2 linked regions of the Homo sapiens genome follow. Each later gene encodes a partner of the first gene's protein in a complex. Each region holds a gene or a part of one and is shown on either strand. Other genes may lie near its edges. The genes, in order: POLK and REV1.

The links.
Region 2: the proteins of POLK (region 1) and REV1 are in contact, whole or in part, in an NMR structure (PDB 2LSI), measured with the Homo sapiens proteins. Residues at the interface, in NP_001374042.1 of Homo sapiens: Lys564, Lys565, Ser566, Phe567, Phe568, Asp569, Lys571, Arg572, Arg575; in NP_057400.1 of Homo sapiens: Asn1158, Leu1159, Ala1160, Gly1161, Ala1162, Asp1167, Leu1171, Leu1172, Glu1174, Trp1175, Thr1178, Ile1179, Met1183, Glu1185, Asp1186, Gln1189, Val1190.

The regions. Positions count from the first base shown.
Region 1 is NC_000005.10:75,605,887-75,610,784, reverse strand, and holds the end of POLK (DNA polymerase kappa), read right to left. Parts: 3' UTR 794-4,898; downstream 1-793. UniProt on the Homo sapiens protein: DNA polymerase specifically involved in DNA repair. Plays an important role in translesion synthesis, where the normal high-fidelity DNA polymerases cannot proceed and DNA synthesis stalls.
Region 2 is NC_000002.12:99,437,892-99,445,188, forward strand, and holds part of REV1 (DNA repair protein REV1), read right to left. Parts: intron 4,579-7,297; coding exon 4,426-4,578; intron 1,420-4,425; coding exon 710-1,419; intron 1-709. UniProt on the Homo sapiens protein: Deoxycytidyl transferase involved in DNA repair. Transfers a dCMP residue from dCTP to the 3'-end of a DNA primer in a template-dependent reaction.

The sequences.
Region 1 (4,898 bases):
GGTCCAAGGATATCACTATCACTATCATTAACACATGCTTTAGTCACCAGGAACTGCCAATTTTACTTCTCAAATCTCTTAATTACATCTGCTTCTCCATTTTTATTTCCATTGCCATCATTGCTTGTCACTGAATTTATTGTAATAACTTCTTCATAAGAATTTATTGTAATACCTTCTTCATAAGAATTTGTTGTTAGATGGATTTATTGTCTGTTGCTACATTTCAGGCACAGAATTAAGCACCTTTTGCACAGCCTCACTTAATTCTGAGGTATGGTGTATTCTATTATTAGCCCCGTTTGATAGAAAAGGATTCTGAGGCTTGAAGACGTTGGTGGAAGAAACAGAACTTGCCCCTAACGAGCATGACTTCTAAGAATGTGTTGTCAAGGGCGTGACTCACTCACCTTGCTCTACAGCAGGGGGTCACTTTGCTCCATCCCCAGGCCAAATCCCGCTGCTGCCTGTTATTGTAAATAAAATTTGTTTTAACACATTAAAAAAAAAAATTCCTGCAAAATCTACAAGCCCCAATGAACTCCCAGCTCTACTCTACCACTTCTTTGTATAATTTTGAGAAATGTCAAGGTTGAATTTATAACTAACACTATAGGAACTTCAATATTAAATCATTTCTAAATGGGCTTCCAACATTTTCTTTTGAATAAAGTAAGACTTGATTTCTCATTTGAAGACCATGAATTTTAATCTTTCCTGGCGGATTCTTTTGAAAAGTGAAATAATACAGAAGCAAGTCAAATTCTGACCCCCCAAATAAACTTCAAATAAGAAAGGTAATCAGGTTTTCATTTATTTATTCTTCTTACAAATTTACAAAAGATGTATCATTTTAATGTAAATTATGTAATATCAATGTTCATTTCAAACTTGTCAGTTTTTCCCTTCAAATTATTGTGCACCAAATTTGAGGCATTAAATTCAAAACAATGTTTCCTAATCAATGAAAAAACAAACATGACAAAATATTATTTATTTTATCAGAACACCGCCCATAACCTCAAACTTTCCTCTTTTAAAAAAGGGAAATGGGCCTAATGTTTGTAATAGAGATATGATAAAAACAATAGCAGGTAAGTTGAATTGAGTATTATGCAGAAATATCAGACAATGTACTAATATGGAAAGTATAATATGTAAATGGAAAAACAGGGCACCAAATTATATGTATATGTAGCATGTTTACAAGTAAAATTCTAAAAATCAAAAGAAAATACCCACACAAAAGAAGGAATAATAGTGAAAACAGCAGCAGATCAATGGAAAGCATACAGCCAAGTACAGAAAAATCTCCCAGTCTGGGTAACAAAGTGAGACCCCCTCTCTACAAAAATTAGCCAGGCATGGTGGTGCATGCCTGTAGTCCCAGCTACTTGGGAGGCTGAGGTGGGAGGATGGCTTCAGCCTGGGAGGCAGAGGTTGCAATGAGCCAAGATTGTGCCACTGTGTGCCAGTCTGCGTGATAGAGCCAGACCCTATCTCAAAAAAAAAATTTTTTTTTAATATAAATAAAAAATAATTTTAAAAAAAGATCTGAATTGTGTTATCCAAGTTTGAAACTGCTTTCAAATTCTAAACCAAGAAATTTACTTTTAAAAAAATCCTCTTATCAATGACAGGAGAAAATGCATCATCATTTTATGCTATATAGCCTTATAATAGTATGTGGTACTTATCTTACTCTAACAGATGAGACAAAAACTCCAAAGCAGTGCATTATGTGAAACTTAGCCATAGCTGGACTTTATTTCCCTGACAGCTTGGGCTAAATAAGAAGCTATGAAGTATACTGTGGGAGGTATTTTCTTTTTCACTCTGTTTCAAATATCAGGTTAGTTCTCAAGCAGAATATTAATTCTAAGCGTGCTAATACATAAAAGCTTGCCCACATGATCTGGCCCTACTCATCTCTCTGATCTTGGGCCCTACAATTCTTCTCCATTCTTCATCCACTGTTTCCTGGTGGAGAGCCATCAGCTTCTATTTCCTCCCTTTGCCTAGAACTTCTCTCCCCCACCTCCACTTCCGAATTTTTAAAATAGTTTTGATCCTTCGTATCATTAAGGTTTCAGGTTAAATGTCACTTCCTCAGAGGAGCCTTCTCGGATCATCTTATTCTAAAAGTGTCCCCTACCTTCATGTTCCATTCCCTTATGCTGTTGTCTCTTTCCTTTGTAACACTTACCACTGAAATGTCTATTTGTTTAGTGTCGGTTTCCACAACTAGAATGTAAACTTCATAAATACAGTGATTTTTAAAACTTTGTTGGGCCAGGCGTGGTGTCTCATGCCTATAATCCCAGCAATTTGAGAGGCCGAAGTGGGAGGATGGCTTGAGGCCAGGAGTTTGAGGCCAACCTGGGCAACTTAGTGAGACTCCAGTCTCCACAAAAAATTTAAAAATTAGCTGGTGGTGGTGGGGCAGACCTGTAGTCTTAGCTACTTGGGAAGCTGAGATGGGAGTATGGCCTGAGCCACGGAGGTCAAGGCTGCAGCAAGCTGTTATCATGTCACTGCATTCCAACCTGGGTGACAGAGCAAGACTCTGTCTCAAAAAAAAAAAAAATTAATTAAGTTTCTTACTGCATCTCCAGTGGCTAAAACAGTACCCGACCTGCAATAAGTATTTGTCAAATAAATATGGAATGCAATTTAGCCATGGGAACAGTAACTTGTCTTTGAGTCCTGAAAGCTTTAAGTTTTTCCCCTAAAGGTCTAGACTAAAAAAATATGTTCAATTCTGAAGTAAACCTTTAAAACCAGGTCCTGTTCAAGGATTCCATATTTTTAAAAACATCTTCCTAGATTTCTCTTTGCCCTCCTCTACCAGACGATTTCTCCCTAGACTCCCACTTTGTATATTCATCTATTATAGCCCTCCCTACATTGAATAGAAACTGTCCCTGGGGTGGCTCTCCATTTTTTGAGGACAAACATGTCTTAATAATCTTTATGTCCTTTATCAGCTAGGATTCAGCTATAATTAATAGGAAAACCCAAGTAACTATGGCTTAAACAATTTTTTAATTTGTTTCTTGTGAAAGTCTCAAAGTGTGCAGGCCAGTGCTGATATGTCTCTGTTTTACAAAGCCCCAAGAATCAGCCCCTGCAGCCCACTACTCTACCATCCCCCTGTGCAACCCTTATGTTCAGGTGTAAACGGCAGCATCTGCTTCCAGGCAGCAGGATGGAACAGAGAAATAGAAAGAAGAGGCAAACAGAATGCTACAGCTGCAAGAAAGGAAGGTTCCCAGAAGCAACCACACACAGTACTTCCTTTTTTTTTTTTTTTTTTTGAGACAAGGTCTCGCTTTGTCACCCAGGTTGGAGTGCAGTGGTGCAATCTCAGCTCACTGCAACCTCCGTCTCCCGGGTTCAAGCGATTCTCTTGCCTCAGCCTCCTGAGTAGCTGGGATCACAAGTGTGTGCCACCACGCCCAGCTACTTTTTTGTATTTTGAGTAGAGACGGGGTTTCACCATCTTGGCCAGGCTGGTCTCGAACTCCTGACCTCAGGTGATCCACCCGCCTTGGCCTCCCAAAGTGCTGAGATTACAGGCGTGAGACACCGCACCCGGCCAGTACTTCCTTTTATATCCCATTAGTCAAAACTCAGTCACATGGCTACCCCTAGCTGGGAGGGTGTGAGCTTCAAGGATGGGAGATACATTGTAGTCATCAATTCTGTAACACCTATTTTTCACATTATCACATCTTTTTAATTGAGATACTAAGTTGTCTGCCTGAATTGAAGTTGAGTTCTTCCATAGAGGATTTGCATATGCTTCTGCCAGTCACTAGGGGCAATACTAACCTCACTTTAATTACATTTTCTGCTTGAGCTCTTTAGGATGATACCATTTGTGTGAATTCAGATTACAAGCCTACATGTGTACTGGTTTATGGTTCAAATTCTCACTGGCAGTCCCTCCTTCCAACCAGTGCCAAGGCTGAGCATGCAAATTGCTTTGCTGTGGGGAAAAGCAAGAGAGATCAGATTGTTACTGTGTCTGTGTAGAAAGAAGTAGACATAGGAGACTCCATTTTGTTATGTACTAAGAAAAATTCTTCTGCCTTGAGATTCTGTGACCTTACCCCCAACCCCGTGCTCTCTGAAACATGTGCTGTGTCAACTCAGAGTTGAATGGATTAAGGGCGGTGCAGGATGTGCTTTGTTAAACAGATGCTTGAAGGCAGCATGCTCCTTAAGAGTCATCACCACTCCCTAATCTCAAGTACCCAGGGACACAAAAACTGCGGAAGGCCGCAGGGACCTCTGCCTAGGAAAGCCAGGTATTGTCCAAGGTTTCTCCCCATGTGATAGTCTGAAATATGGCCTCGTGGGAAGGGAAAGACCTGACCGTCCCCCAGCCCGACACCCGTAAAGGGTCTGTGCTGAGGAGGATTAGTAAAAGAGGAAGGAATGCCTCTTGCAGTTGAGACAAGAGGAAGGCATCTGTCTCCTGCCTGTCCCTGGGCAATGGAATGTCTCGGTATAAAACCCGATTGTATGCTCCATCTACTGAGATAGGGAAAAACCGCCTTAGGGCTGGAGGTGGGACCTGCGGGCAGCAATACTGCTTTGTAAAGCACTGAGATGTTTATGTGTATGCATATCTAAAAGCACAGCACTTAATCCTTTACATTGTCTATGATGCCAAGACCTTTGTTCACGTGTTTGTCTGCTGACCCTCTCCCCACAATTGTCTTGTGACCCTGACACATCCCCCTCTTTGAGAAACACCCACAGATGATCAATAAATACTAAGGGAACTCAGAGGCTGGCGGGATCCTCCATATGCTGAACGCTGGTTCCCCGGTTCCCCTTATTTCTTTCTCTATACTTTGTCTCTGTGTCTTTTTCTTTTCCAAATCTCT
Region 2 (7,297 bases), on another chromosome or scaffold:
CTTTCTAGGACAGAACCATGAGCTTCTCTCTATACCTCAGTTTCCACAGCTATAAATTATAGAGTATTAATCTCTGAGGTCTCTCCCCATAAAAAAATCCTATAATCTGTAAAAGGAACTAAAATTTCAAACCAGATACTAATTTATAATGACTGGCCCAGAAAAACAGTATGCTACTGTGTGTGCATTTGTTTTTGATGACAAGAAAAGTATTAAAAAACAAAATACAATGAACCAATGTACTTAAGATGTGAAATAATCTCACTGAAAGTTTACCACTGTTAATTACAACAGCTCTATGTCAAAATTAAAAAATCATTATGATGCAAGCTTCTAGAAATTAACAATTACTCTTATCAAACCAATTTCATTCTTACAGGAGTTTAAGCACTGGATAGATGTTATATTAACACAGTTCAAAACTTCACCAACTGATAAGGTCTACGTGAGGAATGAATGCTCAGAATCCCAACCATCTTACTGTTTAAATTCTCTGAAAATTTTCAGTCAGCCACAATTATATCTAATTGTTTTAAAAATATTTTAATAAATTAGCTTTCTATGTTATGCTTACTGTAACTTACATGATTTGACATACTTAGAGACTTTTATGAGAACTTCATATTGACCAGAAATACCAATAATAGCATAAGAGCAAAATGATCAAGCATGACTGTTTCTTAAGAAGACAATTTTAATAAGTATCTACCTGTGTCAGTTACAACAAGTGCAGACCTGCCTGTTTTCATTTTTTTTAACTTTTCCCTTCCTGGAAAGATACCATTACTTTGTCTTTGTAGGGTATTGACAAACTCAGTCAATTCACACTTCCACATTGATATGTGATGCAGTCTTGAATGAGAATAGAAGTTTGAAATAAAATTGCAGTCTGAAGGTTTGGATGGCACTGAAGGTGCTGCCTTGCTAAACGTAGATACTGAAGAAGTGCTTTTTGTGCTTGAAGGCCCCTGAACAGTGGAGTGGTGAGCACCATTGATTTTAGTGTTACTGTGCAAAGGTGATAATGAGAAAGAATTAGTTCTGTGTGGATTCCGCAAAGCATCTGTGTTTCTGGTGCTTTGCTGCAACTGCTGCAGAGTGCAGTCTCTGAAATCAGTGCTGCTCTTCTCAGCCTTATCCTCCTCCTGGGAAAAGGCTGGAGAAAGCCTGCTGGCAACACTGTTGACCATGGGCACCAAGCAATCCTGTGTCTTTAAGGCACCATTAGAGCTAGGAGTGTGTCCATTAAAAATGGCAGTGCTCCCTCTGGGATGCGGAATTCCATTCTGTTTCCTTCCCGGAGAGGTCTGCTCCAGATCCACAAAACTAAAATCATTATTTTCATCTTCTTCATTCCAACTGTTCATGCCATTGACTTTGACTTCATTTTCCGTTTCAATCTTCTTAACGATGTGATTTCTAAAGCAGGAAAAAATTTTTGAGTTAATAATATCTGACTTTTAGGTTAAAACAATTTTTTCATTTCATCATTTTCTTAGTGGTACACAGTTTGGTATTTCCCCCTTTAAAAACAGAAAATTCTTATATTGAATATTGACAATGAAAAAAAAAAACCCTGAAACTTAAACCACAAACTTTATATTCTGATTTGACAAAAGATCATTCTTTGCAAAAGTAGCAAGATAACTAGAAAAATTCTAGAATATTAACAGCCCTTTAGGTGTTTTTTGTTTGTTTTTTATTTTCACTTCAGATAGTCCCAAAGAAGAAATAAAATAGAACATTTCTCATGGCTGAAGAAAAACCCAAAAAACTTTTCAGTTATTTTTCCCATAAAAAATTAATTGGAATCTATAAGCTGTAAATACCCAGTTCTGAAGCACAGTGCTTGGCATTTACTACATGGTCAATAAATATCTGCTGAATTAATATACTACAAATAACTTTCATAAAAATGGATTTAAAAACCTTACTTGAATTCTTATTCCTAGTTTTAGTTTTTATGAAAGGTACTATTCAACACATTAAATCTAATACGAAACCAGATGGTTTCAGTAGGAAAAAAACTGACTATATTGATTAACCTATTAATGAGCTAACTGTTGCACAAATAGACAAAAAGTAAAGCCATGTCAATGTGTGGGGGTAATTCAGTAAAATTTACACCTAGAAAAATAAGGACGCTTGCCTTACTGAGAAGGGAAATTGCACTTCATTTCTAAGAAATGCATATTTAGATGCCAGGGTGGTACAAGGCAATCTGGACCAAGTTTCCTGATGACAGCTTTATAAATGCAGAACCCATGACAAATGTTATGCTAAAGTCACATCCTGGCTCCTCTAGACGTTTGTTTAGAAATGCATTCACGAGAATCATCTAAGTAACAAAAACAAAAACCTGAATTACAAAGCAGTAATTCATTCTACTTAGGAATGTCCAAATGTCCATAGCATTAATTCAATTACAGCGCAGGCTCCAGATGAAGGGCTGCCCTACAGAGTAGTAAGCCACAGGTGAAATTACCACAGTATTATCAGGTTCCACCTAAAGCCCCTCACCCTAATACCAACTTGGTTTATTAGTAATGAGAGCCTGACTACACAGAAAAGTCCCACAAGCTGGATGATCACCCATTTCTGGGTTAGCTCAGGCTCTGGCTAAACATCATATGGAATGTGACAGGCAACTGTGAGTAGATGCCATGCTCACAGATGATCATGCCAGTGATGGGGAAAAAGACAAAGTAGATATGATTAAAAGAAGAAAAAAAGAAAACCTAATTTGTCACATGCAGAGAAAGTTCAGCCTCTTGAGATAAACAGAATGCAAGGGAGCAAGAAGTCACAGATGAGCATTTCAAAGAAATGTACAAAATGTACTGAATATACCCCCCAAAAAAACCCCAGAAAACAACAAAAGTGATGTACGTCAGAAAGTCTTACATCTAGTTTTGTGTCAAAAACATTCAGACCCTTTACATGCATTATAGCAACACATGCAACAGAAAGCCATATATTGGCAGGAAAATACATTGTTAACATACATTCTTGCTGTACTATAGTTTCTCAGCCTAGACAAATGGACATTTGCAAAGTAGCTGTACTGGAAATATCACGGGTAGAGATACATTTTTTAGGCAATGGCATAAATGTATTAAGAAGTAAAATCTAAAAGGTAATTTCTTCCTAAAGTGTCACAAAGAAGATTTTGAAAAAACATATCTATTTTCTACTTTTATTAATGTGGGTAAGAAAAGAAAGCTAAAGCTACGTATTCTGTGAAAAGGTTTTCTGGTATTATTTGCTATATACCTTGATAGCACATTAAAAAAAATTAAAAGCTACAGGTAACATGAAAAATATTTGAATATGCTTGTGAGTACAAGTTAAATTAACAAATGACAACAAAAATTACAGAAGGCAGTGATACTGGATCCTCTCAGATTAATTAGACTCCTGGTGTTTTCGAAAAAAAATATATCCAACTCCCAAAGCAAGCAATTTAATAAATAAAGAGAAGGCTAACCATAATGAACCACCTGATATACAAGGTAAGGCAACCCACCAATTAATTGTGAAACAATTTATCCAGGGTTGCAATTAAAAGCTTAAATTAAAAAAAAAAAGCAGCCACATGGAATAGTCTAGATTCACTTTCAATTCTATAACCAAGGGTCACCAACTAAACTTCCATTTATATATTTACATATTTAGAATGTTATGAATTTTGAATTTTTCAAAAATAACCCAGAAATATTAACATTTTCATTGTCTTTCTATGCATGGAACACAACAAAAATATAGCTGGTGCAGTTAGTTCCATTTTTGAGAAAGCAATACAGCAAATTACTTGTGAGGAAATAATTACTTTCATAAAAATCCATGAAAAAACTTATTAACAATTAAGATCCACTAGTTTAAGGTGAGAAACCAGTATGACTGTAAAAACTTACTTACATTTATGAAATTATCATTATAAAAATAATTCATTTTTAGATAAGACACTCATACACACATATTTCAACATGTTTATTATAAGTGAATGGCCAGGGTTTGTATCTGCTTCTGTCTGACTGTAACAGAGCAGGGGCCATGCTCACTGCTAAAAACCAGCTTTGTGGCCAGGCGTGGTGGCTCATGCCTGTAACCCCAGCACTTTGGGAGGCCAAGGAAGGTAGATCACAAGGCCAGGAGTTCGAGACCAGCCTGGCCAAGATGGTGAAACCCCGTCTCTACTAAAAATACAAAAATTAGCCAGGCGTGGTGGCACACGCCTGTAAGCCTAGCTACTCGGGAGGCTGAGGCAGGAGAATCACTTGAACCTGGGAGGCAGAGGTTGCAATGAGCCGAGATCATACCATTGCACTCCAGCCTCGGCAACAAGAGCAAAACTCCATCTCAAAAAAAAAAAAAAAAAAAAAAAACCAACCAGCTTTGCAGTAATCCCCAACTAGACAAACTTACACCCTGTTGTTGAGCTGTTTGGCTATATTGCTTGGACCTGGCAGAGGATCCTCAGGTCTGCATACAGGATTAAAGCTGAGACCTTTCTGCACACTGGACTGCTTGGTGTACAGCTGATATGGAATGTAGGAGAGGAGTCGTCCAGCTTTGATGCTGAAACAAAAAGCAACACCAATTTAGAGTTCCATACTTGGTGACAATGAGCTTCATGAAAAATATTCAATGTCCTTAAAGATACAGTATTTCACCAACAACAGGTCATCTGTTTTCCTAGTTTATTCCTTCTTGCTCGGTTTTAGTGGTCCTAATACAATATGATCTTAGAGTGGGGAAAAACTGCAAGCACAGAGCTGAACTAGTCAATATTTTAAACCTCATGACTTTAGTATTTACCACCCTGTCAACAGTTAACAGAGAATCATCAAGACTTCATCAAAATCTCATCTATTAAGGTTTTCCAAGATAAATAAACTGAATAAGGATGCTCAATTTCCAAATTCATGTCAGAAACTGTAAAATAAAAATATAGGACAAAATAAAGAATCTCAACTTCAAGAGTAATAATTTATACTATTTTTATGTATACAAGAATGGTTAAGAGCCAAGGCCATTTGAAGATATGAACTCTACAAGGGCCAAAACTACCATGTACATCCTCACAGCATATCACACAACACCACTCAAATCCAGGGGAACACCAGTGTTCTAACGCTAGGTGGTACTAGCACTGTAACTGAAGTTCCCAAATGTCTGCTTCCTTTTGTACTTCAGAACTAAAACTAATTTGATTGCAGTATCTAAAACTGACATTTTCTTGCTAATAAACTGAGTTATATATGGCTACTCTACCTTTAAAATTATCATTTCACTTCAAATTTAAAAATAACCAATCAATATACTTATGCTATCATCCAAATTTCAAAACAAGCTACTTTAATATTAGAAAATATTTCAAAACAACCTCTGGATTTTAAACCTAAAATATATACCAAGGAATCATCCCTCAGTTATTTAGAAAAAGACTGATAAATAACATGATAAAAATATGTTTCTTATTGTCTCATAAATCCAAGACTTGACATTTTCATTTTCTTAAATGGTGTCACACAAAACTTTTTAAAAAATAATCATTTAAGAAATGACTGAATTGGCTTACAGAATACTAATTAAAAATAACTGAGTCAACAACTTGGAATACAGGAAAACATACTAACAGATTCTAAAAACGGAACTATATATGATACAGAGTATGTCCTTTATATAATTATGTCAATATATATTTAACAATTCTACCTAAAGTACCTTAACCTATATCAAATGCTATAACTATTAAATTATGATGGTAAAGAACATACTATACTAGTCGCAAGACATGTAACCAAATGGATTTATGACCAGGCTAAATGTTTTACCAAAATTCAGGTTACATTCAAAATACATTCAAAATTTCAGGTTACATTCAAATATTAGAATCGAAACCCTAAAATTCGACTATTTTTTACTTTATTCTTCCTCAAACCAACTTTTCTTCCTTTTTTTTTTTTGAGACGGAGTCTCGCTCTGTCGCCCAGGCTGGAGTGCAGTGGCGCGATCTCGGCTTCACGCCATTCTCCTGCCTCAGCTTCCCGAGTAGCTGGGACTACAGGCGCCTGCCACCACGCCCGGCTAATTTTTTGTATTTTTTTAGTAGAGACGGGGTTTCACCGTGTTAGCCAGGATGGTCTCGATCTCCTGACCTCGTGATCCACCCGCCTCTGCCTCCCAAAGTGCTGGGATTACAGGTGTGAGCCACCGCGCCCAGCCCTTTTCTTCCTTTAATAGTTGGTCTCAATTGCCTAACTATAAATCTTTGTTCTGTGGTATTATGTATATCAAACTCACTTGCTTCCCCCACCAAAAGAAGTACAGCTACTTAATACCTGAAATAAAATCCTAACCTTAGCTTTCCATCCTTTATCATAGATAGCTATAACTAAGAGACAAGTAGAGAGTGAAACTACACCCACTGTGCCAGCTGCACATCTCAGGTAAAACCAAAAGTGCAAGGAACAAAACGCCCTATGATCATTCTCGCTTTTCCTGCCCTACTGACAGCATGCTGGAGTGATGCAGACTCTACAGGTACTCTCTATGGTCAGCACTGATCATATACAAGGGTGTCAGGCCTTATCCAGCTCCTAACAAGAGCCATGTGGCCACCCACAGAATTCTTAGGCTTACATAAGTCAGTCCATGGAGACTGCTACAAAATTAGACAGCCAATTTAAATACTGCAAGTCTCAAATCAGATATCCTCAGAGATACTCAATAAAAAGAATTAAAGCCCAATGCACTACAGTAATGTTAGTGAAGTAATGTCAGTTATAATTTGAAGCCTAAACCACTATCTATCAGTTGTATACTCCTAACTACCCCTGCTTGCCCATTTATCTATCTATAGATATATAGACAGAAACATTATCTGAAAGCATATTTGTATAAGACCTTTTTAAAAATCTCTCTGGGATTAATTTCTCACATTTACTATTTCCCCTCTTGTTCTAAGCGCAAAGGAACTGTACTGACATTTTCTACTATTCTTTCAAAACCAAAAGGAGAGGATAATAAAAAAATCCATCTTTATCCAAAAGATAATACTACACGGTTTCCTTATACACTGAGTTTTTTCATGTACATTGAAACTATATTCTGATATATACATGAAAGAGTTTACATTCTATACAACGAATCAAAACATAGTCATAGCAAGTGAAATATTCATCTATTTTGGGAAGTCTTACTCTTGCTTTGTCCTACAGCCTCTGCGTTTAGGAACAAAAAAAAAAAACACAAGGAATGGCAAAAAAAACTCATGAGAGATAAAATTGCAATC